6 separate regions of the Homo sapiens genome follow, and regions 2, 3, 4, 5 and 6 are each linked to region 1. Evidence: fine-mapped expression QTL. A gene starts in region 1. Each other region holds a variant in brackets. All regions are shown on one strand. Distances are from middle to middle. Region 1 holds the start of LRPAP1 (LDL receptor related protein associated protein 1). Region 2 overlaps LOC101928217 (a long non-coding RNA gene). Region 3 has its middle 34 kb from the start of DOK7. Region 4 overlaps LRPAP1 (LDL receptor related protein associated protein 1). Region 5 has its middle 18 kb from the start of LINC00955. Region 6 overlaps DOK7 (docking protein 7).

Evidence for each region.
Region 2: its variant is fine-mapped to the expression of LRPAP1 in unexposed skin (GTEx, PIP 0.99).
Region 3: its variant is fine-mapped to the expression of LRPAP1 in pancreas (GTEx, PIP 0.95).
Region 4: its variant is fine-mapped to the expression of LRPAP1 in skeletal muscle (GTEx, PIP above 0.99).
Region 5: its variant is fine-mapped to the expression of LRPAP1 in whole blood (TOPMed, PIP above 0.99).
Region 6: its variant is fine-mapped to the expression of LRPAP1 in pancreas (GTEx, PIP 0.93).

The regions. Positions count from the first base shown.
Region 1 is chr4:3,530,462-3,534,546 of GRCh38, forward strand. It overlaps LRPAP1 (LDL receptor related protein associated protein 1), which reads right to left and starts at 1,961. Exons shown (of 8, transcript NM_002337.4): 1 at 1,748-1,961. The coding sequence starts at 1,951. RefSeq lists silencers at 1,451-1,700, 2,141-2,200 and an enhancer at 1,741-1,950.
Region 2 is chr4:4,039,797-4,043,881 of GRCh38, forward strand. It overlaps LOC101928217 (a long non-coding RNA gene), which reads left to right. Exons shown (of 5, transcript XR_001741554.2): 4 at 2,265-2,353. Among named protein-coding and RNA genes, the nearest start is that of OTOP1, 190 kb to the right of the region's middle. The variant G/A (reference allele first, on the strand shown) is at 2,440.
Region 3 is chr4:3,495,760-3,499,844 of GRCh38, forward strand. It overlaps a transcript of DOK7 not described here. Among named protein-coding and RNA genes, the nearest start is that of DOK7, 34 kb to the left of the region's middle. The variant A/C (reference allele first, on the strand shown) is at 1,651.
Region 4 is chr4:3,509,253-3,513,337 of GRCh38, forward strand. LRPAP1 (LDL receptor related protein associated protein 1) reads right to left here. Exons shown (of 8, transcript NM_002337.4): 8 at 1-3,784. The coding sequence ends at 3,722. Among named protein-coding and RNA genes, the nearest start is that of LRPAP1, 21 kb to the right of the region's middle. RefSeq lists an enhancer at 1-796. The variant C/T (reference allele first, on the strand shown) is at 1,584.
Region 5 is chr4:3,557,165-3,561,249 of GRCh38, forward strand. No RefSeq gene overlaps it. Among named protein-coding and RNA genes, the nearest start is that of LINC00955, 18 kb to the right of the region's middle. The variant G/C (reference allele first, on the strand shown) is at 2,096.
Region 6 is chr4:3,489,112-3,493,196 of GRCh38, forward strand. It overlaps DOK7 (docking protein 7), which reads left to right. Exons shown (of 7, transcript NM_173660.5): 6 at 566-685; 7 at 3,648-4,085. Among named protein-coding and RNA genes, the nearest start is that of DOK7, 28 kb to the left of the region's middle. RefSeq lists a silencer at 601-710 and an enhancer at 3,491-4,012. The variant A/G (reference allele first, on the strand shown) is at 2,507.

The DNA.
Region 1 (4,085 bases):
TCAGCAAAAAAGACTTGCCCACACAACTAGAACTTCAGGACTTAAAGGGACCAGAAAGATCATCTAGTCCAAGGCTCAGTCCAAAGTGGAGGTGAGCAGCTCGCCCTACCATGGTGCCCAGTGAACCTCAGGGAGGTTTAGGAGACATGACCCAACCCAAGACTGAAACTGGTCAGGCGAGCACCCAGCACCGGGGGACAGTGCAGGGGCAGCCCGAGGGTAGCTGGACCAGTGCAGGGGCAGCCTGAGGGCAGGTGTATTGCTGCAGGAGGCCTGGGCTGACAAAGACAGAGGACCAGCTGGAGGTGGCTGGAGGTAAGGTGGAGCGCACCAGGGCGGCCCTGCAGAGCAGGTGGAAGACTTGGGCCAGCACCCAAAAGGGAGCCGCTGGGGTTCCTGGGTCCGAGTGCACTTCCTCAGCGCCACCTCCAATCGGTCAGGGAGTCTATTTCGGGCTCCCCATTCCTCATGGGGAGGGGGGACTCCACCCACTCAACAGATGCCCAGTGCAGTGGGCACGGGGAGGCAGCACTGCATCCCGGCTGCTCCTGGTCACACCTGTTCCCTGCTGCTGGGAGGCCATCAACACATCCAAACCCAGCCGTGTCCCCAGCCCCTCCAGAATCCCTTCCTCCAAGAAGCCGCCCTGCCGCTCCAGCCCAGAGCGTTCTCCCACCTCCCACCTCCGCAGGCTGAACATTACGCCTGGGGCTTGACTGCTGGTCCCAGGAGCAGTTCAGGAAGGGCCTGTGGAGCTGATGCCCAGGCGTCAATCCCCATCCCCACGCAGTCTTATAACCGTCTGTCGTCTGTCTGTCCCCCACCTGTTTCTCCTCTCCCTTTTCGTTCCAAAAGTTCCTTCTTATTCTGCAAATCACTTACTTTCCCTCTCAAAGACTCAGGAATGCTTAAAACTGGACTATTGAGACAGAGATCTAATCTGACTCCTGCATTTGAGATGAGATAATGAGGCCCAGATGGTCGGCATAGTTCGAAAACACCCATTTCAGGTGTTTTCAGGAACACCTAACAAATGAAGCAACCGTATCTTAATGAAGAGAGCAGCTGGCCCAGGGTCACGCACCAATTAGGAAGCTGTTGTCCCGGGGGGCCCCACCGGCCGAGCCACCTTGGGGGTGCCCTTTCCCCTCGGGGCCTCCGTACCCTCATCTCTCAAATGAAGGAGAGGTCAGGTGAGCGCCCTGTTAAGACTGACTTTCAGCATTCCCAAGGTCGCGTTTTATGTGCTCTAAACCGATCCCATCTCCTCACCTCCTCATTTCTCGCTCAAATGAACAAGCACGGGCTTGCTACTGGGATTCCTTCTGTCCCTGGACACGTCTTTCTACCCAACATTTTGTTTTTCTTGTTTCCCCACATAGGGAGATAAGGTTGAGGGAACAGGCAAAGGCTCGGGAGGCAGGAGACCTGTGATCTAGCCTGGTTCTGTCCCTACGCTCGGGTCAGCAGGCCGCCCAGGCTGGGGAGGGCGACACTGACCCTCGGGGTGCCGGCCGCCACCTGCTTCACACGGCGTCGTCGCCGGCACGGGTACCTTTCCTGCTGCAGAAGGGGTCGGGGCGCCCCACCTGACACTTGGGGGAGGCTGTGCCAAGGACAGGGCGCGTAGGGCACAGGTGCCCCGGCTGCGCCCCCCTCCGCCTCCGACCCCTGGGCCCCGCTCCAACGACCCCAACCACGGCCCCCGCCCCCAGGCCCCGCTCCACCGACCGCGGGCCGCGCTCACTCGCTGGGCCTTCTCCCACAGCTGGTTCAACTTCTCCATGCGGAACTCCTCTCCGGACTCGCGTTTCGGGGACGGCTTGGGCTGGTTCTTCTCCCGCGAGTACTTGCCGCCGTGGCTCGCAGCGGGCCAGGGCCCGAGGAAGAGCAGCAGCAGTAGCAGCGCCGGGAGCCCGCGCAGAAACGACCTGACCCTCCGCGGCGCCATCTTCCTCTGCGACTGGCGCTGCGCGGAGAAAACCTAGCCTGCCGATGCCCCGCCCACTACCCCGCCCCCACCCACCGCGCGGTCTCCTGGGAATTGTAGTTCCTCCGTGAGCGGCCGGCAGCGGCGAGGCCGCCGGCGGACTCCAGCGCCTAGGAAGCCCTGCGCAGGCGCAAGCGTTTCCCAGGCAACCACGCCGCGGCCCGAGGCTGCAGACTCTGGCAGGGGATACAACTGGAGAATGAGGGTGGCCGGGTGGGAGCAGGGATCAGGCCTCACCCAGAGCCCGGAGCCTGGAGCCCGCACGACTCGAGGCCTCTTTCCCTCTCTGCCCCACAGAAAGAGCGGAAAGCCCAAGAACCGGGCCGCGTTTGGCTGAGCCTGATAATGCTCCGGCTTCACGCGCACTGACGCCGACTCTTGCATGTCCAGTGCCGTTGCGGGGTTGGCACTGCGGCCCGGGCCTGGCGCTGAGGAGCCTGGCCCAGCCCGCTTCTGCCCTCCGCGGAGCGCCTGGCCGTGGGTAAGCCCAGGCCAGGTTGTCCCGGGGACGCAGGGCCGCGCAGACGTCCCCCTACGTCCCGGGGCCCCTGCCCCAACCCGCGTCCCAAGCGCCTGCTCTCGCGCCTGCTGCAAGGCAGGACTTCGCGCGCTTTTCCCCAACCCATGACACTCTAGGAAATTCACAGAGCCAAAGTTAGCATAGACCGCTCGTTGGGGGCTTGGCCAGTGAGTTGGGAAGTGCCCTGGAGGTAGCGCGGGAAACAAGGGGAAGGAGGGAGACAGACAGCAGCTGGGCCCCTTTGGGCTCAGAGAAGGGACAAGGGGAGCTCATCTGGCAAGAATGATCTGAAAAGGCCTCCAAGGGTGGGCGGGATTTTGCGGGGGGAGGGAGGAATTTCCAACTGGAGGGACAATGACAAAGGGGGTGAATAGAGCCTGGGCATCTTGAGAGGAATTAATGTTAATTCATTTCCTTTTTTTGCGTGGGGGGATAGGGTCTCTGTCATCGAGGCTGGAGTGCAGTGGCATGATCATGGCTCACTGCAGCCTCGACCTCCTGGGCTAAAGCGATCCTCCTGCCTCAGCCTCCCAAGTAGCTGGAACTATAGGTGCGTGTCACCACGCCCAGCTAATTTTTGAAATTTTTTGGTAGAAATTAGGTCTCCCTATGTTGTCCAGGCTGTTCTCCAACTCCTGGGCTCAAGCAACCCTCCCGTCTTGGTCCCCCAAAGTGCTGGGATTACAGGCGTGGGCCACTGGGCCTACCCTAATTTACATTTAAATTGTATCTTGTGTTGTTCCAGAGAAGATTTCAGGTCCCTGGAATCAAGGTGATCTGCTTCTGTCCTGTGCTGCTTTTCTAGTATTTTCAGAGCCATCGTTTCATTTCTTTTTTTCCAGCTGTTGAGTTGTTTCAGGCAAGAGGGTAAATTCAGTCTGTTACTGCATCTTAGCTGGAAGCACAAGTTCCCAATATGGGATGTATGGGGGAGAGGAGGTAAAGGAATCCCCCAGGAGGGTGGTGGAGGGAGAATGACCTCATGCGAAGTGACTCCAGAGACAGATCAAATGCTGTCATTGCCATCATTGCATGTTTTTAAGCCTCAGGACAGAATGGCCAGGTGAGCCTGGCCTAGATTCTCACCTGTGCCTGCCTTCCCCTTGTGTTCCCTCGTTCCTGCTCTTCTCTCCATCTCCTGGTGCCTAGAATCAGAGGTCACCTGTTTTACCCCACATACATGTTTTGCCCTGACCCCACTCCTGAGAGCTACAGGTAGGTCTTGGTGGGCTTAGAAGGGGATAGTCCAAATTGGCCTATCCCCCCCAAGCATGTCCCTGTTGGTCATCTGGAATGTGGTCCTAACTGCAAATGTTCCAGCTCTGTGAATCCTGCCCCCAGTGTCTCTAGAAAGGCCCGTTATAAACCCACAGGAATTGGAAGCTGGACTGGGAGCAGAGTCTTCTGGGATCCTGCATCTGACAGTGGTGTGGGGTTCTAAGAGCCCTTTTCCTATACAGCCCGGTTTCCCAGATAACTAAGCAATATTTTATTCGTGGCTGCATACACAGGCAATGAAACTAAAGAAAGTCAGGGGATGGCTAAAGGATGGAGGATACCTGGGCTGGGGGAGGA
Region 2 (4,085 bases), 510 kb after region 1:
GACTACAGGCGTGAGCCACCGCGCCCGGCCAACACTCAACTTCTTTTTTGTTTTTTCCATTTGTCAACTCGTGAACACCTCAACCTTGTTACATCCAAAGCCAAACTCATGGCTTGGATTGGTAGGTGATGGCTGTAATCCCAGTGCTATGGGAGGCTGAGGTGGGAGGATTACTTGAGGCCAGGAGTTTGAAGCCAGCCTTGAAAACACAGTGAGACTCCCTATCTACAAAAAAAAAAAAAAAAAAAAAAAAAAAAAAAAAAAAAAAAAAAAAAAGCTAGGCATGGTGATGTGCATCTGTAGGATCTGTAGTCCTGCTACATGGCAGGCTGAGGCAGGAGGATCACTTGAGCCCAGGAGTTCGAGGCTGCAAAGAGCTATGATTGCACCAGTGCACTCCAGCCTGGGTGACACAGCCAGAGACCATGTCTTAAAGAAAACCCAAAGCCAAACTCTCTTTTTCCTCCTCCTTCTCCATGGGTTCTGTTCATGCCATCTCTGTTCTGCAAATGGCACCACCCCCTGCTGAGCTGCTCAAGGTGGTCATAACTCATGTGTTGTGCTAACTCTGCTTTTGCTCTCTTCTCCAGTCAGCAAGTCCTGTGATTCTAAACTTTATCCAACTTGTCCACTCTCTCTAGCTTCACTGTCATTATCTTTGCCTAGGACACCACTATCTCAGCTGGGCTACAGCAGCCTCCTAACTGGTCTTAACTGGTACTCTGCACCTGCTCTCCATGCTCAGCAATCCATTTCCTACCTGGCAGCTTCAGTGATCTTAAGGTGTCCATTGAGTCTCATCCCTGCCTTTCCTGCCCATGGTACATAGAATAAAATCGAGACCCCGAGTCTTCTGCCTGTTCCTGCCACCTCTCCAGCCCTCTCCTATCTCCTGCCCTTGGCCTACTCTATTTCAGCCACTATGGCCTCCTTTTGTTTTCTTGGACTTTCAAACCTTTTTCCACAACAGGGCCTTTGCACTTACTGCTTCAGCCTGGAATGATTTTCCTCTGCACCTCCCCAGATTAGACCATCCTTTAGGTCTCAGCTAAAATGGTGCTTCCACAGACAGCTCTTTCCTGACCCCTTTATAAAGTGGACTTCCCTGCTCTTCTCCACCTTAACCTCTTATTGTTTCTTGTTGTGGGAAGTCAGGGACCCCAAATGGAGAGGGACTGGCTGGAGCCATGGCAGAGGAACATAAATGGTGAAGATTTCATGGACATTTATCAGTTCCCAAATAATACTTTTATAATTTGTTATGCCTGTCTTTAATCTCTTAATTCTGTTATATTCATAAGCTAAGGATGTACATCACCTCAGGACCACTGTGATAATTGTGTTAACTGTACAAATTGATTGTAAAACGTGTGTTTCAACAATATGAAATCAGTGCACCTTGAAAAAGAAGAGAATAACAGCAATTTTTAGGGAACAAAGGAAGACAACCATAAGGTCTGACTGCCTGCTGGGTTGGGCAAAAAGAGCCATATGTTTCTTCTTGCAGAGTCTATAAACGGATGTGCAAGTAGGAGAGATATCGCTAAATTCTTTTCCTAGCAAGGAATATTAATAGTAATACCCTGGGAAAGGAATGCATTCCTGGGGGAAGGTCTATAAATGGCCGCTCTGGGAATATCTGTCTTATGCGGTTGAGATAAGGACTGAGATACGCCCTGGTCTCCTGCAGTACCCAAAGGCTTACTAGGGTGGAGAAAAACTCCGCCCTGATATACCTGTGGTCAGACTGGTTCTCTGCTCTTGAACCCTGTTTTCTGTTGTTTAAGATGTTTATCAAGACAATACATGCGTGAATGAACATAGACCCTTATCAGTGGTTCTGCTTTTGCCCTTTGCTTTGTGATCTTTGCTGGACACTTATCAGTAGTTCTGCTTTTGCCCTTTGTCCTGTTCCCTCAGAAGCATGTGATCTTTGTTAGACCCTTAGTAGTAGTTCTGCTTTTTACCCTTTGAAGCATGTGACCTTTGTACATACTCCCTGTTCTTACACACCCTCCCCTTTTGAAGCCCTTAATAAAAACTTGCTCATCTGAGACTCAGGGGGAATCACGGTCCTACTGATGTGTAATGTCACCCCCAGCAGCCCAGCTGTAAAATTCCTCTCTTTGTAGTGTCTCTATTTCTCAGCTGGCTGACACTTAGGGAAAATAGAAAGAACCTACATTGAAATATTGGGTGCAGGTTCCACCTATACTTCTTTCATGGATTTACTTATTTTTTATTTGTCCCCCTCTGTATCCTAGAAACTCCTGGAGGGCAGAGGCATGCCTGCCATCTTCATCAATGCATTACCACCACCCAACACTATCGGGGGACCTGCCCTGATAATCAGGTAGGTTCTTTTCTATTTTCCTAAGCGTCGACTGGCTTGAGAAATAAAAGGACAGAGTACAAAAGAGAGAAATTTTAAAGCTGGGC[G/A]TCTGGGGGAGACATCACACATTGGTAGGATCTGTGATGCCCCACAAGCCACAAAAACCAGCAAGTTTTTAATAGGGAGTTTCAAAAGGGGAGGGAGTATACAAATAGGTGTGGGTGACAGACATCAAGTACTTAACAGAGTAATAGAATATCACAAGGCAAGTGGAGACAGGGCAAGATCACAGGACCACAGGACGGAAGTGAAATTAAAATTGTTAATGAAGTTTTGGCACCATTGTCGTTGATAACATCTTATCAGGAGACAGGGTTTTGAGATCAACCTGTCTGACCAAAGTTTATTAGGTGTGAATTTTCTCTTCCTAATAAGCCTGGGAGTGCTATGGGAGACTGGAGTTTATTTCACCTCTGCAATCTCGACCATAGGAGACAGGTACGCCCCACGGGGCCAGTTCAGAGACCTACCCCTAGGTGCGCATTCTCTTTCTCAGGGGCGTTCCATGCTGAGAAAAGGAATTCAATGATATTTCTCCCATTTGCTTTTGAAAAAAGAGAAATATGGTTCTGTTCTGCCCGGCTCGCCGGTGGTCAGAGTTTAAGGTTATCTCTCTTATTCCCTAAACAATTGCTGTGATCCTGTTCTTTTTTCAGGGTGCCCACATTTCATATTGCTCAAACACACATGCTGTACAATTTGTGTACTTAACGCAATTATTACAGGTCCTGAGACGATATACATCCTTCTCGGCTGACAGGATTAAGAGATTAAAGTAATGACAGGCATAGGAAATCACAAGGGTATTGATTGGGGAAGTGATAAGTGTCCATAAAATCTTCAAAATTTATGTTTAGAGATTGCAGTAAACACAGGCATAAGAAATTACAAAAGTATTAATTTGGGGAACTAATAAATGTCCATAAAATCTTCATAATCCACGTTCTTCTGTCATGGCTTCAGCCGGTCCCTCCGTTTGGGGTCCCTGACTTCCCGCAACATCTCTCCCTTTCTTTTTATGTAAATGTTCCATGGCGATGAAGGCTTGTTCATTCTCTCGATTTTGACACAGTATTATTTGACTGGTACGGCACACTAAAAGCAAGCCGATTAAGCAGAGAAACATAATTCCAAAATTTACTATAGTGGAGCCCCCAATAGACTTAATCCAAGTTGTGGGGTTTAATCCATAAAGATTTTCTGCCACCTGATCTAACGTCTGAGCTCCAGGCATGATGGATAAGTGAGCTTGGGAGGATTCAAAAATTTGTTTTTTTAATTTAGTTGTGTCCAGTGATAAATTATCTTTTCTACCTAGAAGGTGTCCTTTGACCATTTCCCCATGAATGATCAGTCTTGATATAGGAATACGGGGTGATGCAGAAATCCAAAGTATTCCAATCGCAGTGCATTTGCATGCGATGTTCTAGACTCACTACCCGATCTCCAAGCCAAATAACAGAGTGTCTTAAATCATTAATTTGATTTGCCAATTTTTGATCGATGCCTTGTTGAGAATTCCACATTTGGGTGGAATTGGCTTGCCAATCATTAACAAAATGAGCTGTTTGAGTAGACTGGTGTAATGCCATTCCGGCAGTGGTGGCCATTGCAGTGACTGTAATTAGGCCCATGGTAACAGCGATTAAAGTGAAAACAAATCTCTGAGATCTTTTTAGAATGCTTTGTACCA
Region 3 (4,085 bases), 35 kb before region 1:
GGGCTCTGCACCATCCACACCTACCCGCCTGCCCCCACCGGGAGCAGCTGGGGAGGGGCCCTCTCAGGAGCCTGTGTATGTGATGAGCTCAGGGGGTGTCGGCCTGTTGTCAAAGGTTCTCAAAGTCTAGACCAGCTCAGTTTGCTCAGGGGGCCTCGTGTGAGGGTCCCAGCCCTGTGACTGTCTGCCCTTGAGTCTGGCCTGCACCAGTGCTAGGTGCTGAGCCCCCATTTCCGGCCTCCCAGCCCCCACCCACGAGGCCCCTCAGAACAGGAGGGTGCTGCGCCTTCTTTCTAGCTGCCGGCTGCCGGAACCCATGTGGGACATTGTCTTGGGCTGGCCCCGCTTCTGCTCATCTGGGCTGGAGGTGGGCAGGAAGCCTCTGCTCAGCCGTGGGCCGCTGTCCCTCCCGCAAGCGCCCTTCAGACCCCACCATAGGCTCCTCCAGGGACTTGGGGCACCCCGTTAGGCACGGCCCACTTCAGAGGCCCAGGAGAAGGTCGCCTGCAGTGTCAGGGAACTTTGCTCATCTCATCTGGGGCCTCCCAGTGGGGCATTTTCCAGGGGCACCCCCCTGCGGAGCCTTCCCCACCAGCTGCAGAGAGCAGGGCCCACACCCTCAAGGACGGGAAAGGAAATCACAGGCACCCTCGGAGCAGCCGCTCAGCTCTGAGGTCGGAGCCCAGACACTACCTTGCATGGGCGTGGTACTCCTCCGATAAAGCTCTAATAGCAAAATAGTGGGGCTGGACTGGGCCTCAGGGCTGGGAACCGCCCCCTCCCCAGATGCCGAGGCCTCCAGCTCCCCCATGGGTGGTTATGGGGGCTACCACCAGGCTGGGTGGTCAAGGCAGTGGGTGGCCCGGAGATCTGGGGGCTGTGGGGCAAAGGGCCCTGGAGAGAAGGCATCAGGTATGGCGGGCTGGACTCCCTGCAGGTGACCCAGGTCCCCCAGCCTGTGTCACTCTTGGGGGGTAGTGTCCTTGTTCTCGGTGGCCCCCCGGGCACAGGATGAGGGGAAGACTGAAGGATGCACTGACCCAGGTTCTCTTTGGTCTAGGGAGCGGCAGCCTCAGCCCCAGGACCTGCGACAGCACATTCAGGTAGGCACCTGGAGCCAGTCCCCCAGAGCTCGGGGACAGGAAGGCGGGAGTCTGGGTGGGCGCAGATGGCAGCCAGAGTTTGACTAGATGGGGAGGGGGGAGGGTGGGGGGCCCACTGCCAGCAGGGAATGTGGGCAATGTGGTGAAAGTGGTTGTTGGCTGACAGTGGATGTTGGGTGGCAGTGGGTGTTGGGTGACAGTTGACAGTGGTTGCTGGGTGGCAGTGGGCAGTGGGGGTGAGTCCCAGCCCAGGTGTGGACAGCAGGGCAGTGGGTAGAGGGCAGGCTGCTGGAGGATGGACTGAAGGTTGGGAGACACAGACTGGGGTCCACGGGTCCCCAAGCCCTGAGTGTGGACCTGTTCCTGGGAGGGGGCATGGCAGGAAGGCAGTCAGGGTTGGGGTCCAGGAGCCCCAGCTCAGGGAGGAGGGGCTGTGTCCTCAGACAGCGGTGGGGGCCTGTGGAGGCTGGGCTGGTGGTGAGCGACTCGGCGAAGGGCAGGGCATTGGTGCCCTGGCAGGTGCAGTTTTGGGGCCAGGTTGGGAGGG[A/C]GGGCCAGGCAGGGAGGCAGTGGGAAGGTACGGATCCCCAGGGTCTCCCTAGAGAAGCCTGGCAGTCACTGGGGACAGAGCCCTGCTGAAGGTTGGGCAGGGCTGAGAGGCTGGAGATGAGGACGGCTGGCCTGGGGTAGATGGGTGGCATCAGGGCCAGTTCTGTGCCTGTTTCCTTGTGGAGTAGGAGCCACTGCGGGCTAAACCTTGGATTCCTCAATCCCTTCTTCCCAGGCAGGTGGCACCTACAGGGGGGCGGGGTCCAGGCAGGCCTGGAGAGGACACCCAGGGTGGGGGAGGCGCCCAGGCAGGCCTGGAGGGGACAGTCAGGGATGGGGGCGGAGCCACAGGCAGGCAGGGGCAGCTTGGGAAAGCCCCCACCAGTCTGCCTTGGCCCTGGGCTGGACACCGATCCCTGCAGTCCAGTGTGCTGAGGCAGCCACCAGACCAGAGGTGGTGGGGCCAGCCCTGCCCCAAGGGTCCTCCTGGGCAGCCTGCTGTTGCCTCCCCGAGGCCACCCGTACCCTTCAGATGTCTTTTACCCAGACAGGGGTGCCCTGGGACACAGGTGTGGGGATCAAGGGGACAGGCCCAGTATCTGCTGGAGGATGTGAATCTTTTCCACAGAGGCCGGGGGCTCAGGAGGGGCGCCTGGGGTCTGTCATGGGACAGAGATGAGCCAGGCCCAAGTGGTAGCGTCGGGCTGCCAGCCCAGGGCGGGGTCTGGGAGGAGAGTGCAGAAGGGCCAGCCGATTCCCGGTTGCTGCTTCACTGAAAGAGTATCCGAGGTACTGGAAGCGATGCTCACAGAAGCCGAAGCAAAATCCAAGTCCCAAGGAGGGGACGGGAGGAGGAGCACTGAGGGCCCTGGAGCCAGTGGCCTTGGGGGAGATACAGATACGGACACACTGCTGGCCCAGCGCTGCTTACAGCCCCCGTGTGACTCCGGGTGGTGTTGGGAACATTCGTCCCCTTTCCCTGCAGTCAGGCCTCATGCTCCTTCCTGCTTCCACCCTCACCCCTCACCGCCCAACCTTGGGAGCAAACTTGGAAGAACGGATGCAATCCTAAAACGAGGTACCAGGCTGCAGGGGGGTGTCCAGCCCCACCGTGGGCAAGCCCCGGCCCTGCCCCTTGGCTTCAAGGCCCCCTTTCCAGACGCCAGGCCCCGGCGCTCCCTCAGCTCTCCCCAGGCCCTCACCCCACCTGCCTCTCCCACCACCCCCTCTTGGCCTAGCCCCTCAGCCATGCCCCCTCCTCTAGGCAGCTGGCCCTGCTGGCCCTGTCCCTGCTGGCCCAGGTGCCTGCCTGGGCACCAGAACTTGGCCGCTATGTTCTGTGGCTCATCTCGATGAAGGGGTCCTGGCATTCCGAGGGGACCAGCCCTCTAGGACCACACATTTGCAGGAGGGGGGTCTCCCCAGGGCCTCAGGGCCAGGCAGGGTTGGGGCAGAATTGTGTTGGTTGCTTTAGTTCATGGAATCAGGTGAGCGAACCCTCGTCGACCTGGGCTCCATCTCGCTCTGTCCCAGCTGCTGCCTGCAGAATCAGCGAGTCAGGTCTCCCTGGCCTCAGTTTCCCCACTGGGAGCAAGCAAGTGAAAGTTCCTCACCCCTAGCCCTGCTGCAGGGAGTGACGGGGACAAGGGTGAGAGGAGCCAGGCAGAGTGGATGTCTGCGGCAGGTGCCGGGCAGCGGGTGGCCACAGGAGAACCTGGTCTGCTGAGGATGCATCCCTGGGGCAGGGAGGCCCAGCCTTGAGTCAGGCCCCTCCCCTGGACAGGCAGGTGTTTCAGGGAGGCCGACCCTGCAGGGCTGTCACCCGCTGGATCCCAGCCCCCACCTGAATTCTGAGGGCTCGGAGTGTGCTGGGGGTGGGGAGGTCACTGTGGGTGGGGCTTGGCTGTGTCTCCCAGCCACTGGCTCAGGGAATGGGGGGGGACTTGCTGTCACCTCCCCTGCCTCACGTGGCTGTGCGTTCCCTCACGAGGTCCTGATGACAAGAATGGGAGGAGGCACTGGAGAACGGGGTCCTTCCTGTAGAACCTGGGTGCCCACGGTGCGGAGCCCTCAGGCCTGCAGAGGAGGGGCCGGTGTGCGTCCAACCCCCTAAGGTGGGAGCCTGCCTCAAGTCCCACCCAGCCGGGCCTGTGGGGTCCCCTCCTATCCTGCTCCTGCTCTGCCCTCCCCAGCACCAATGGGGTGTGCAGACAGAACCATCAGCTATTAGGAAGGGGGTCGGGGGAAGGGAGTAGCTCCTATGAGGGGGGAGAGGGTGTGGGGCACCTGGGTGTCCTGGAGGGGATGCAGAGGGAGCGTGGGCCTGTGTGCAGGAGAGGAGGGGGTCCCTGGAGCCTGCAGCAGGTGGGGGTGACCCCGGAGGACAGTGAGGGGGAGGTGCTGGGGGCCAGGACAAAGCAGGGCTGTGCTGGCCCG
Region 4 (4,085 bases), 21 kb before region 1:
CGGCAGTCAACGCGTGGACACCGGAGACTGTTGAGACGCCGACTGGAGTCACACACGGCAGTCAACGCGTGGACACCGGAGACTGTTGAGACGCCGACTGGAGTCACACACGGCAGTCAACGCGTGGACACCGGAGACTGTTGAGACGCCGACTGGAGTCACACACGGCAGTCAACGCGTGGACACCGGAGACTGTTGAGACGCCGACTGGAGTCACACACGGCAGTCAACGCGTGGACACCGGAGACTGTTGAGACGCCGACTGGAGTCACACACGGCAGTCAACGCGTGGACACCGGAGACTGTTGAGACGCCGACTGGAGTCACACACGGCAGTCAACGCGTGGACACCGGAGACTGTTGAGACGCCGACTGGAGTCACACACGGCAGTCAACGCGTGGACACCGGAGACTGCTGAGACGCCGACTGGAGTCACACACGGCAGTCAACGCGTGGACACTGGAGACTGCTGAGACGCCGACTGGAGTCACACACGGCAGTCAACGCGTGGACACTGGAGACTGCTGAGACGCCGACTGGAGTCACACACGGCAGTCAACGCGTGGACACTGGAGACTGTTGAGACGCCGACTGGAGTCACACACGGCAGTCAACGCGTGGACACTGGAGACTGTTAAGACACCGATTCTTCCCAACATGTATTCAAGACATTCAGAAAAGGTATTCAAAAATGCGTTCAAGGGAATTGCTATTGAAATTCCAGAAGGCATGTTTTTTTGGTAGAAATTGAGACACTGATTGTAAAACATATATGGAAACACCAAGGACATAAACAGCCACAAGAATCTTTAAAAAGAAGAGTTGGAAAATGCACATCACCTCGATTCAGGGTTTATTATAAACCCAACTGTAGCCAAGACAGTGTGGCGGCCGGGCACCATGGCTCACACCTACAACCTGTAATCCCAGTAGTTTGGGAGGCTGAGACAGGAGCATCACTTGAGCCCAGATCAAGACCTGCCTGGGCAACATAGTAAAACCCCGTCTCTACAAAAAAAATAAAAATAAAAAAAATAAAATCAGCCGGGTGTGGTGACACACGCCTGTGGTCGCAGCTACTACTCAGGAGACTGAGGCGAGGGGATTGCTGGAGTATGGGAGGTCAAGGGTGCAGTGAGCTGAGATCACGCTACTGCACTCCAGCCTGAGGGACAGAGCAAGACCTTGTCTAAAGTGTGGCAATGGCAAGAGCGTAAGGACAAACAGAAACAGACCCACACAGGTAGGTCAGTTGATTTCTGACAAAGGCGCCAAATTAGGAGAAAAAAGCCTATGCAGCAAATAATCTGAAAGTTAAGGGAGAAATGGATCCTGACTGCAACCCACACTGGAAACGTACACTCCTGAGTAGGGACTGGATACACACGCGGCACACACCCACACAACAGGCCGCCACGCGGCAATCAGGAGTCTGCCGCTGATCCACGCAAAAGCCTGGGTGAATCTCAGATGCTGAGCGAATGTAAGCAGATACACGCAGACATACACAGACGCACGCAAAGACACAGACTGCCCAGAGCCATGCACGTGGAACCCATGGCAGGCGGGAGGTAGGGAGCTG[C/T]GGTGGTAGGAGTCAGAATGGGTACCCCTGTGGGACTGGCTCTGCGGAGTGGAGGGCATCACCTACATCCTTCGTGAGTGCGCACCATGACCAGCCACACCCATGGAACTAACACTCGGTATCTGGGTTTTTTGTGTAACTGCCTCCCCTCAACACCATGGTCTCCCACATACAAAAGAGGCCATTATACAGTAAGACACGCTACTCCGCAATTAGACACCACAAAACGCCAGCCAGGCTGTCCATAATTAAAAATACCGAGCACCAAGTCTCAGCAATCCACTAGTGTTCTCCTTCCACCCAGCTGGGAGAAAGAAACACAGTCCAACCACTTTGGAATCATCTCTATACTTGGACAACACGCTTCGTAAGATCCATTAGGTGCTCCTAGAGTTGGCCCCCACCCCCACCCCCACACGAGTGTTCACCACAGCTATTTCCAAGTGAGTGTTATTACCCCAGAAAGGAAGCAACTCAAATATCCACCCACAATAAAGTGCATTAAAATCAGAGCACAGGACAGTCATGCAATGGAATACTATACAGCAATGAAAAGGAACACACTTCTGCTAGATGACAGGGCTGAGTCTCACCAACACACTGAGTACCTTAAGGCTCTCAGGATAATGGGAAAAAAAAGAACCAGAATCCACCCCCCGCCCCACCAGCCACACACACACAAGTCCACAAAGGAACAGGCACCCACATGCTGTACCCTGGGGCCCTTCCAACCCTGATGCGCCAACTCCCGACATGCTGCCTCTAGCCTTGACCTTTCTCAGAAATGATAGCTTAGCGGATGTTTGGCAGATCTCAACAGTCAAGCCAAGATCCAGCTGCAGTCAAAACACAATACGCCTGGTGGAGCCTCTTCCAGGTTCAAACACGGGAACCACGCTCGGAGCTGGACCCGGACCCGAGCCTCTTCCAGGCTCAGACACGGGAACCACGCCCAGAGCCGGACCCGAGCCTCTTCCAGGCTCAGACACGGGAAGGGAACCACGCCCAGAGCCGGACCCGAGCCTCTTCCAGGCTCAGACACGGGAAGGGAACCACGCTCGGAGCCGGACCCGAGCCTCTTCCAGGCTCAGACACGGGAAGGGAACCACGCTCGGAGCCGGACCCGAGCCTCTTCCAGGCTCAGACACGGGAAGGGAACCACGCTCGGAGCCGGACCCGAGCCTCTTCCAGGCTCAGACACGGGAAGGGAACCACGCTCGGAGCCGGACCCGAGCCTCTTCCAGGCTCAGACACGGGAAGGGAACCACGCCTGGAGCCAGACCCGAGCCTCTTCCAGGCTCAGACACAGGAACATTCTCGGAGCCGGACCTGAGCAACCGCCAGTCCATCAGCTATGGTCAGAGGAAGGCCTCCGTGGCTGTCTCTCCCCCATGAGATGGGGCATTTACACAGCACACTTAGGGACACGGAGGCCCTGCAGGTTTGGTGAGGTCTCCCGAGGTCCCTGAGCTGCAGAGGTGAGAGTTGAAAGACGCTGCCCCCAGGCCACAGTCTCTGACTGTCCACAGAACCACACGCTCCACATCTTCCCCTCAAACTCAACTCAAGCGCTCTTGGCTTTAAATCAGGCCGGGCCGTCTCACGGGAAAAGGAGGTTGGCTGCAAAGACCCACAGGGCCCAGAGGGGAAGCTGGCTATGACGCGATCCCTTCAAGAGCACTGGCTCCGGCCCCAGCCACCAGGACACTTAGTGACCAGCCAACAAGCGGGTGGTTTAAATACTGCACTCTATTTTTTAAGGACTCTGTGCATGGTATTTCCGGTGGCAGATGTGTAAGATTTTTTATGTAAATCGTGTTGTTTTAGCAGAGGACTATCAGACCTGACAGCAGCTGGACATCGAGGTCCTCACTGGGGTGGTGACTGCCACGCTGATGCTGAGTGGAAGCCAAGCCCCTTCAGTCAGAGCTGGGCCGATCTCAGACCCAAATGCTACCACCACCAAGCCCTGTGTCGCGACGGCAGCGGCTGCAGTCACCAGAAACAATCCTTCCTGCCTCGACACCCGTGCCAGCCCCAGCCACCCTGACGGCGGGCTGTCCACGGAAATGCCACGGCCAAGAGCCCAGGTCCTTCACGCTGGCCTCTTCCCTGCCGGGCTGGGCTCCCCAATGCCTTCAGAGTTCGTTGTGCCGAGCTCTGGAGATCCTGCCGGACAGGTCCTGCAGATGCTTCTTCACCTGTGGACAGAAACGTCTCATCAGCTGGGGACAGCGCGCCTCGAGGCCAGCTCTGTGAGCTCAGCCTCATGTCAGGAGACGCGCGATCCAAAAGGAAAAGGCGCAAGCCCTGCACATCTGACTTTCCAATTCCACACCCATCCAGAAATGCTCAAATCACAAAAGCAGCTCAGTACTAACTAGAAAATCCCACCAAAGAACGCTAAGAGCCACCAGCCAGGAGCAGTTCATGCTGAAGTGGAAAGCTCAGGGTCTCTGTGATAGGCCCATGGTGTTATTTATTTACTTACTGAAAGGGTCT
Region 5 (4,085 bases), 27 kb after region 1:
GCAAGAACATGAACTAGGGTCGGGGAGAGCCGTTGTTCTAAGAAATGGCTAACCACAAGCAGCCCGCTTGCACAACCTCATGTTACCAAATACCTCACTCTGCACGTTAGCTCCAGCAGCATGACCCTGTCTGCATGGGGCCTCTCCAGCGTGACCCTGTCTGCATGTGGCCTCTCCAGCGTGACCCTGTTTGCATGTCGCCTCTCCAGTGTGACCGTTTCCACATGTAGCCTCTCCAGCATGACCCTGTCTGCATGTGGCCTCTCCAGAGTGACCCTGTCTGCATGTGGCCTCTCCAGAGTGACCCTGTCTGCATGTGGCCTCTCCAGCGTGATGCTGTCTGCGTGGGGCCTCTCCAGCGTGACCCTGTCTGCGTGGGGCCTCTCCAGCGTGACCCTGTCTGCGTGGGGCCTCTCCAGCGTGACCCTGTCTGCGTGGGGCCTCTCCAGCGTGACCCTGTCTGCGTGGGGCCTCTCCTGCGTGACCCTGTCTGCGTGGGGCCTCTCCAGCGTGACCCTGTCTGCGTGGGGCCTCTCCAGCGTGACCCTGTCTGCGTGGGGCCTCTCCAGCGTGACCCTGTCTGCGTGTGGCCTCTCCAGAGTGACCCTGTCTGCATGTCGCCTCTCCAGCATGACTGTATCCACATGTGGCCTCTCCAGTGTGACTCTGTTTGCATGTGGCCTCTCCAGCATGACCCTGTCTGCATGTCGCCTCTCCAGTGTGACCCTATCAAACTTCCCCCTGGCCCCTGCCCCTGGGGAGGTGGCCTTCTCTCTGCCATGCTGCCTGCTGTTCTCTTGCAAGGTGTCTTCAGACTTTCTTTACCCACGACTGTCTCGGTAAATTCTTTTACCACCCGTGACACCAGCCCCAGCCAGTTGCACCTGCAACACTGGCTGCAGTGGATTCCTTGTTGCTGATACTCCACATAACGTTGTTAGGTGTCATATATGATCATTCTTTAACAGAGGGGCAAGCTGAGGCTCAGAGAGGTTAAGGCACTTGCTCAAGGTCACACAGCAGAGAGGTTGTGAGTAAGCCAGGCTGCTGGCTTAGAACACTGCCATGGCATTTCTCAGATCACCTCGCTCAGGGACTCCTGGCAGTTCCCCCTGCGTCATAGCGGTGAGTCTGTCCAGGATGAGCCACTCCAGGCTACCGAGGGCCAGCTGGAGGGCCTGCAGACACCTGCTGTGGAGTCAAGGTCCACACCATCAGCCGGAAGAGAGGTCTCAGGAGGGGCATTAGTGTTTGTCCTCGCTGTGATTGCACTGACTGACAAATCAGCTGTGGGACAATGGAAAACACAGTAGCAGCTTGTTACTGAGAAGGGAGGACTCAGGGTGGACCTGACCCCTCTGCAGATGGCTTGGTGAGAACGTGGCCTGCCCTGTTGGCTCCTCCCTCTGGGTATTGGAATTGCCGGGCAGCCAGAGGCTTACCTGGGGTTACTGGCACCCAGGGAGGAGAAGCCCTGAGCTGTGCGGCTGCTGAGGAAGGCTGTCTGCAGGGGAGAGCCCGAGCGCTGAAGGAGGCCAGTGGGCTCAGCCCGATGTCTCCATTCTCCTTCCTACAGCAACCAGGGTGCTTGGAGCAACCAATTGCCCCCCCTTACCTGGTAGGGATGCTAGGAGGGAGAGCGAGCCATTCCTCTAACATCAGTGACCATGTCTTGGTTCCAAAACCCCTTAAGCCTTGGGTTATTTATCAGCAAAAAGAGAAGGGAGGTGCTCAGGGGGTCTTCGTGGAGATCCCCTGCTCCCCTCGCCTTGAATGTGGAGAGGGCCCAAGACTCCCTAGGGAAGGCAGGTGATATAGACTCCAGGTGTGCCCTGCTCCGTCCTCGGCACCACTCTGCAGCACCACAGGCAGTCTGGGGTGCAGATAACATCTCCCTGGGCACAGCTTCGCACCAGGGCATGCTGGGGTACAGCCACACTTGCACAGCCTGTGGATCCCTGCAGCCTGGGGATTGGGCTGCTATTCCCACTGCAGGGAGGGAGGTGGTCGGAGGTAGGGGCTGCTCCTACCTAGGTACTTCTGGCCTCACCAGAAGAAGGGGGAGGGTTTGCACATTGAGTGGCGCCTGCTCCAT[G/C]TTTGTGCCTGTATTTACATCATTATTCTGAAGGCCAAGAGATTGGACCTGCCGGAGCTCCATGCACAGACCCTGTGCAGGTGCATGTGGGCTTCTGGCTTCCTGGTGTGCACAGCCCCTTCTCTCCCTTCTGGACTGTGGCAGTGTACTAGGGACATTGTAGCCACTGTGTAAAGTCTCCCGCTTTCTGGGACAATTTTATTCACTCATGTGTGTTGAGAGCTTGTTTTGTGCTGGGGTCCCTGGGGAGAACGCTGGGTTCACTCATAGTTCCACAACAAGAGACCTGTGGCCTTTGTTGTGGACAGGGGCCAAGAGCACGTAGAGAAGGCGCTGAATGCTCCTTGGCTTCCAGGGGAAAGATCAGGACTGGAAGGATGTGGGAACTGCCCAAAGCTACAGAATCTGCTGTCTCAATGGCTGAGCAGGGTGCAGAGTGCATGCGGCTGTTTGTTCTGTGGCACTGGTAACCTTGGCACTTCTCCAGGTGTGAAGGACAGCATGGGAGTGAGCCTGTGAAGTTGTAGGCAGAGTCCAGGCAGCCCCGAGCCTGGGTTGGTTGTAGCTGTCAGAGTGGCAGCAGGTGGACAGAGGGGATGGGCTCGGGGGGAGGCGGGGGGACCCGCTTGAGTGGGAGTCAGCCTGGGGGCATCTCAATCCCTCTGATGCCTGGTTTGGGTCCCCAGCACTACTTAGCCCACCCCACTGAGCCTGTCTGTGCCTGGCCTGGCACTGGTGATGCAGGGACTGAGTCAGGCAGGGCACGACCCAGAGAGCCCATGGGCAGACAATGTTGGTGCTGCATGCCCGGGCTTAAACCAGCAAGCCTGATTCTGAATGTCCACAAGCTCTTGGCTGGTGGGGCCACAGGACTGGGACCCAAGCCTCCTGGCGACATGGGTGAGGCCATCTGTCATCGGTCCTTCTCTCAGGCCACCTGGTTCCCTGTGACTCACTTGGTGTTGGCCAGGTGCATGGATGCAGATCTGAGCAGACAGTCCCTGTGTCCCCAGTCTGGTTGGGGGTGCAGGGGTCTGGAGCCCATGTGAGCCTGGTGAGAGCCTGGGAAGGAACCACTTTTTCCATGGCAGAGCTGAGTGCAAAGCACGCTGTTGCACTGCTCTGGTGGTGGCATTTTACTCTGTAACCTATTCATCCACACACTCATGTATTTCTCCACCCACCCATTCATCTACTTATCCACCCATTCACCCATCCATCCACTTATCCATCCACCCATCTACACATCCATCCATCCACCCACACACCCATCCACCCACCCACCCATCCACCCACCCATCCATCCATACACCCACCCATCCATCACTTATTTGTTCATCTATCCATCCATTCCCCATCTGTCCATCCACCTACTCACCCATCCATCCACCATCCATCCAACCATCCATTCATGCATCCATCTACTCATCCATTCATCCATCCATCCACCCATTCACCCACCCACCCATCCACGTATTGACCCATCCATCCACCCATCCATCTACCCATACTTCCATCTATCCACATACCTGCCCATGCACCCACTCATCCATCCACCCACCCACTCACCTATCCACCCATCCACCCATCCATGCATCCATCCATCCATCCCCCCACCCACCCGCCTCGTCCCTCCATCTGAAGGTCATTACGGAACAGCTGTGAAGCTGAGATGCTGGGGACCCAGTGGTTACTCAGGACAGTCATGGACACTGCCCTCTAGGCTGTGCTTCCTGGCAGGCAGAAGCAGCGAACAGGACCCTTTGCAGATAGTGGTGTCTGCTGTAAAGGAGAGAAAACAGCGAGAGTAAAAGAGTTGAAGAGCTACTGGGGTCTCCTGGGACTCTTTTCCATTCTGAGTCCTGAGCCCACCGAGAAGTAAGGCATGAAGGCAGGTGCTGGAAACCCAAAACCCTTCTATCAGTGCCAACTCCTCCATCAGGTTGTAAACCAAAAGATATCTGAGACAGGTCTCAATAAATTTAAAACA
Region 6 (4,085 bases), 41 kb before region 1:
CAGCCCTGAGGGGAGGGGCTAGGTGGGGCCGAGGGTCCGCAGACCACCATGCTCTGAGCCTTGGGCACAGTATGAGTCTCCATCCGAGACCCCAGGGAACGGTGGGGACACTGCAAGGTGGGCGGGCATTTCCCCAGGTGGAGGGGAGCCTGTGAGAAATGGGCACCGTGAATGAGGGGCAGGCAGCCCCTCTTGCAGCGAGGCCGGCCCTGGGGATGGGGGAGGGGCTGGTCATTTTTTGGAACAGAAAATTGAAAAACTCGGTGGTGAGGAAGATGAGGAAGGAGGGGTCTGGCCGGCGTGGGGTCCTGGTGAGTGGGCAGGTGGCAGGGCCATCCACGGGCACAGGGACCCAGCTGGGCGCATGGTGGCCTGGATAGGGGTGGTGTGGGTGTCTGCGTTTGAGGGCCAGCCTCTGGGATGAGGCATCGGGAGGAGCGGGGACTCCCAGGGGACTGCCACTCCACAGAGGGGGATAACCACTGAGTCAGGCTGGGCCTGGTGCCTGCGGGCGAGGGTGGGCGGTGGTGGCCACCTCCTCCACCGAGTCTTCTCTCTGCCACAGACCCAAGTCCCCCGGGACCCTCGACTGTGGAGGAGCGTGTGGCCCAGGAAGCCCTGGAAACCCTACAGCTGGAGAAGCGGCTGAGCCTCCTCTCACATGCGGGCAGGCCGGGCAGTGGAGGTAGGGCCGGGGGCTGACCTGGGCTGTGGGACCTCGGCTAAGCCTCCAGCAGGAGAGCTCAGGAGGCATCCATGCATGTGTGGGGGCTGCAGGCTCCCTCTGCTCATTCATTCATTCCTTCTGTCTCCTGCTCATTCATTCTTCCCCCAACTCCCCGCCCCGCCCGCTACTCATTCATCCTTCCTTCCCCACCACCCTGCTCATTCCTTCCTTCTCCTCCTGCTCATTCATTCCTTCCTTCTTCCTCCTACTCATTAATTCCTTCCTCCCCCCATTCCTTTCTTCACCCCCTCATTCATTCCTTTCTTCACCCCCATTCATTCCTTTTCTCCCTGCTCATTCATTCCTTCCTTCCCCACCCTGCTCATTCATTTCTTCCTCCGCCCCCCCCACTCATTCCTTCCCCCCTCATTCATTCCTGTCTTCACCCCCTCATTCATTCCTTCCTTTTCTCCCTGCTCATTCATTCCTTCCTTCCCCACCTTGCTCATTCATTTCTTCCTCCGCCCCCCCGGCTCATTCTTGCCTTACCTCCATTCATTCCTTCCTTTTCCCCACACTCATTCATTCCTTCCTTCCCCCCACCCCCTGCTCATTCAGTCCTTCTTTCACCCCCCCCACCGCCCCGCTCATTCATTCCTTCATTTCTCTCCTGCTCATTCATTCCTTTCTTCTCCCTCTGCTCATTCATTCCTTCCTTTTCCCCCTGCTCATTCTTTCCTTCACCCCCCCGCTCATTCGTTCCTTCCTTCTCCCCCTGCTCATTCGTTTTTTCCTTCTCTCTCTGCTCATTCCTTCATTTCTTCTCTCCCTGCTCGTTCATTCCTTCCCTCTCCGCCTGCTCGTTCATTTCCCTCCTGCTCATTCATTCCTCCCTTCCCCGCATTCCTTCCTTCCTTCCCCCCTCATGCATTCCTTCATTTCCCCCCACTCATTCCTTCCTTCCTTCTTCCTCCTGCTCATTCCTTCTTTCCTTCTCCCCCGGCTCATTCATTCCTTCCTCTGCCCCCCCGCTCATTCATTCCTGCCTTCCCCCCATTCATTCCTTCCTTCCCCCCCACTCATTTCATTCCTTCATTACCCTCCTGCTCATTAATTTCTTCCTTCTCTCCTCTGCTCATTCATTCCTTCCTTCTTCCCCTGCTCATTCATTCCTTCTCCCCCTGCTCATTTCTTCATTTCCCTCCTGCTCATTCATTCCTTCCTTCTTCTTCCTGCTCATTCATTCCTTCCTTCCCCCCCATTCCTTCCTTTCTTTTCCCCCGGCTCATTCCTTCCTTCTCCCCACTCCTGCTCATTAATTCCTTCCCTCTCCCCCTGCTCGTTCATTCGTTTCTCCCTTCCCCCCATTCCTTCCTTCCTTCTTCCTCCTGCTCATTCATTCCTTCCCCCCTGCTCATTCCTTCCCCCCTGCTCATTCCTTCCTTCTCCCGCTGCTCTTTCATTCCTTCTCCCCTTGCTCATTCATTCCTTCATTCATTCCTTCCTCCGCCCCCCCGCTCATTCATTCCTGCCTTCTCCCCCTGCTCATTCATTCCTTCCTTCTTCGCCTGCTTGTTCCTTCCTTCCTCTGCTCCCCCTGCTCGTTCATTCCTTCCTGCTCACCCCAGCTTCCTTCTTTCCTTCTTCCCCTGCTCATTCATTTCTTTCTTCTCTCCCTACTCAATTTCTCTCTCACTCATTCATTCTTTCCTTGTCCCTCCGCTTATTCCTTCCTTCTGTCTGTTCATTCATTTCTTCCTTCTCCCACCTATTCATTCATTCCTTCCTTCACTTATGGTTCCACATTTACTAAACTCTGGTCTGAGGTGCTGACGGGAA[A/G]GGTGGTTCTGCCCTGAGAGCCTTTGAATCCTTTCCTGCCCACCAGCTTGTGGCTGGGGGAGACCAAGGCCCTGCATGTTGGTTTTACCTTCTGTGCCCAGACAAAAGGCTCTAAGGCAGGTGAGCTGGCTGCCCAGGAGCAGAGGCACCTCCTCAGCTGCCGGTGGCTCTGGCTCTGTTGCCATTGTGGGGAGAGGTGGTGGTGGAAGGGGCTGGCAGAGCAGGAGGGGCCGCTGTGCTCCCCGAAGGGTGGCTGCATGGGTGACCTGTGTTCCCACGGCCAAGTGCAGGAGCCGTGCTGGTCCGGCCAGTGCCCTCTGATCACTGCTTGTCCCCCAGAGGGCACCAAGCAGACAGTGGTCATCTCCCCTCCTGCCCTGCCCCAGGAGGAGGGGACTCAGGTTTGCAATAAGCTTTTGCCTTCCTGGGGGTGACTCACAGCTGCTTTCCATTTGGGAGCCCTGGAAGGCAGAGCAGGCAGCTTAGAGACGCAGCAGAGATGAAAGTGGCTTTCCCAAGAGCACGGGAGGGGCCTGGCCTGGCAGGCGGGAGGCAGCCTGGGATCTGCATTGGGTGTGCTTCTCATCCCCCGCAGGGAGGGAGACTGGGAGTGAGGCAAGGACGCCAGCATGGTGAGGGCAGGGGGCGAGTCGAGGTGTGTGGGCACAGCTGGTGCCTCGTGTCCAGGCTGGCAGGGCCTGGGAAGTTCTTGGGGAAGGGACGTCCAGACCAGCCTGGGGCCGTGATGGTGCGGAGGGCAAGCTGCCCCAGGTGGCCCTGGAAGGTAGTCGGGATGGCTGGGTATGGAGCGTGGGGTGTTAGGCAGGGAGGGTGGGGAGCTCTAGGGAAGGGGAGGAGGCGGGGACCAAGGTAGTGGCAGGGGTGCTGAGAGGGAGGGGCGCAGGCCGTAGGAGAACAGGTGGCAGAAGGACAGGAACGGACAAAGAACAGGAGTGGATGAGGGGTAGAGGGGTTGTTGTTGGTGAAGCCAGGTTTCTGCTGTAGGCCCCGGGGCTTGGGGGCTGGAAGGGGTGGGGCGAGACCAGAGAGTGCTGGCCTGTGGGGGTCCACCAGGCATCAGCCACGTCCTGCCCAGACCCCTGTACCCCCACAACTGCCTTGGCTTCCTGCTCTGTCTCAGGGGATGACCGCAGCCTGTCCAGCTCATCCTCAGAGGCCAGTCACTTGGACGTCAGCGCCAGCAGCCGGCTCACCGCATGGCCAGAGCAATCCTCGTCGTCAGCCAGCACGTCACAGGAGGGGCCTAGACCAGCAGCTGCCCAGGCCGCCGGGGAAGCCATGGTGGGTGCCTCAAGGCCACCCCCCAAGCCGCTGCGTCCGCGGCAGCTGCAGGAGGTTGGCCGCCAGAGCTCCTCGGACAGCGGCATCGCCACTGGCAGCCACTCCTCTTACTCCAGCAGCCTCTCGTCCTACGCGGGCAGCAGCCTGGACGTGTGGCGGGCCACAGATGAACTGGGCTCACTGCTCAGCCTGCCAGCAGCGGGGGCCCCCGAGCCCAGCCTGTGCACCTGCCTGCCCGGGACAGTCGAGTACCAGGTGCCCACCTCCCTGCGGGCCC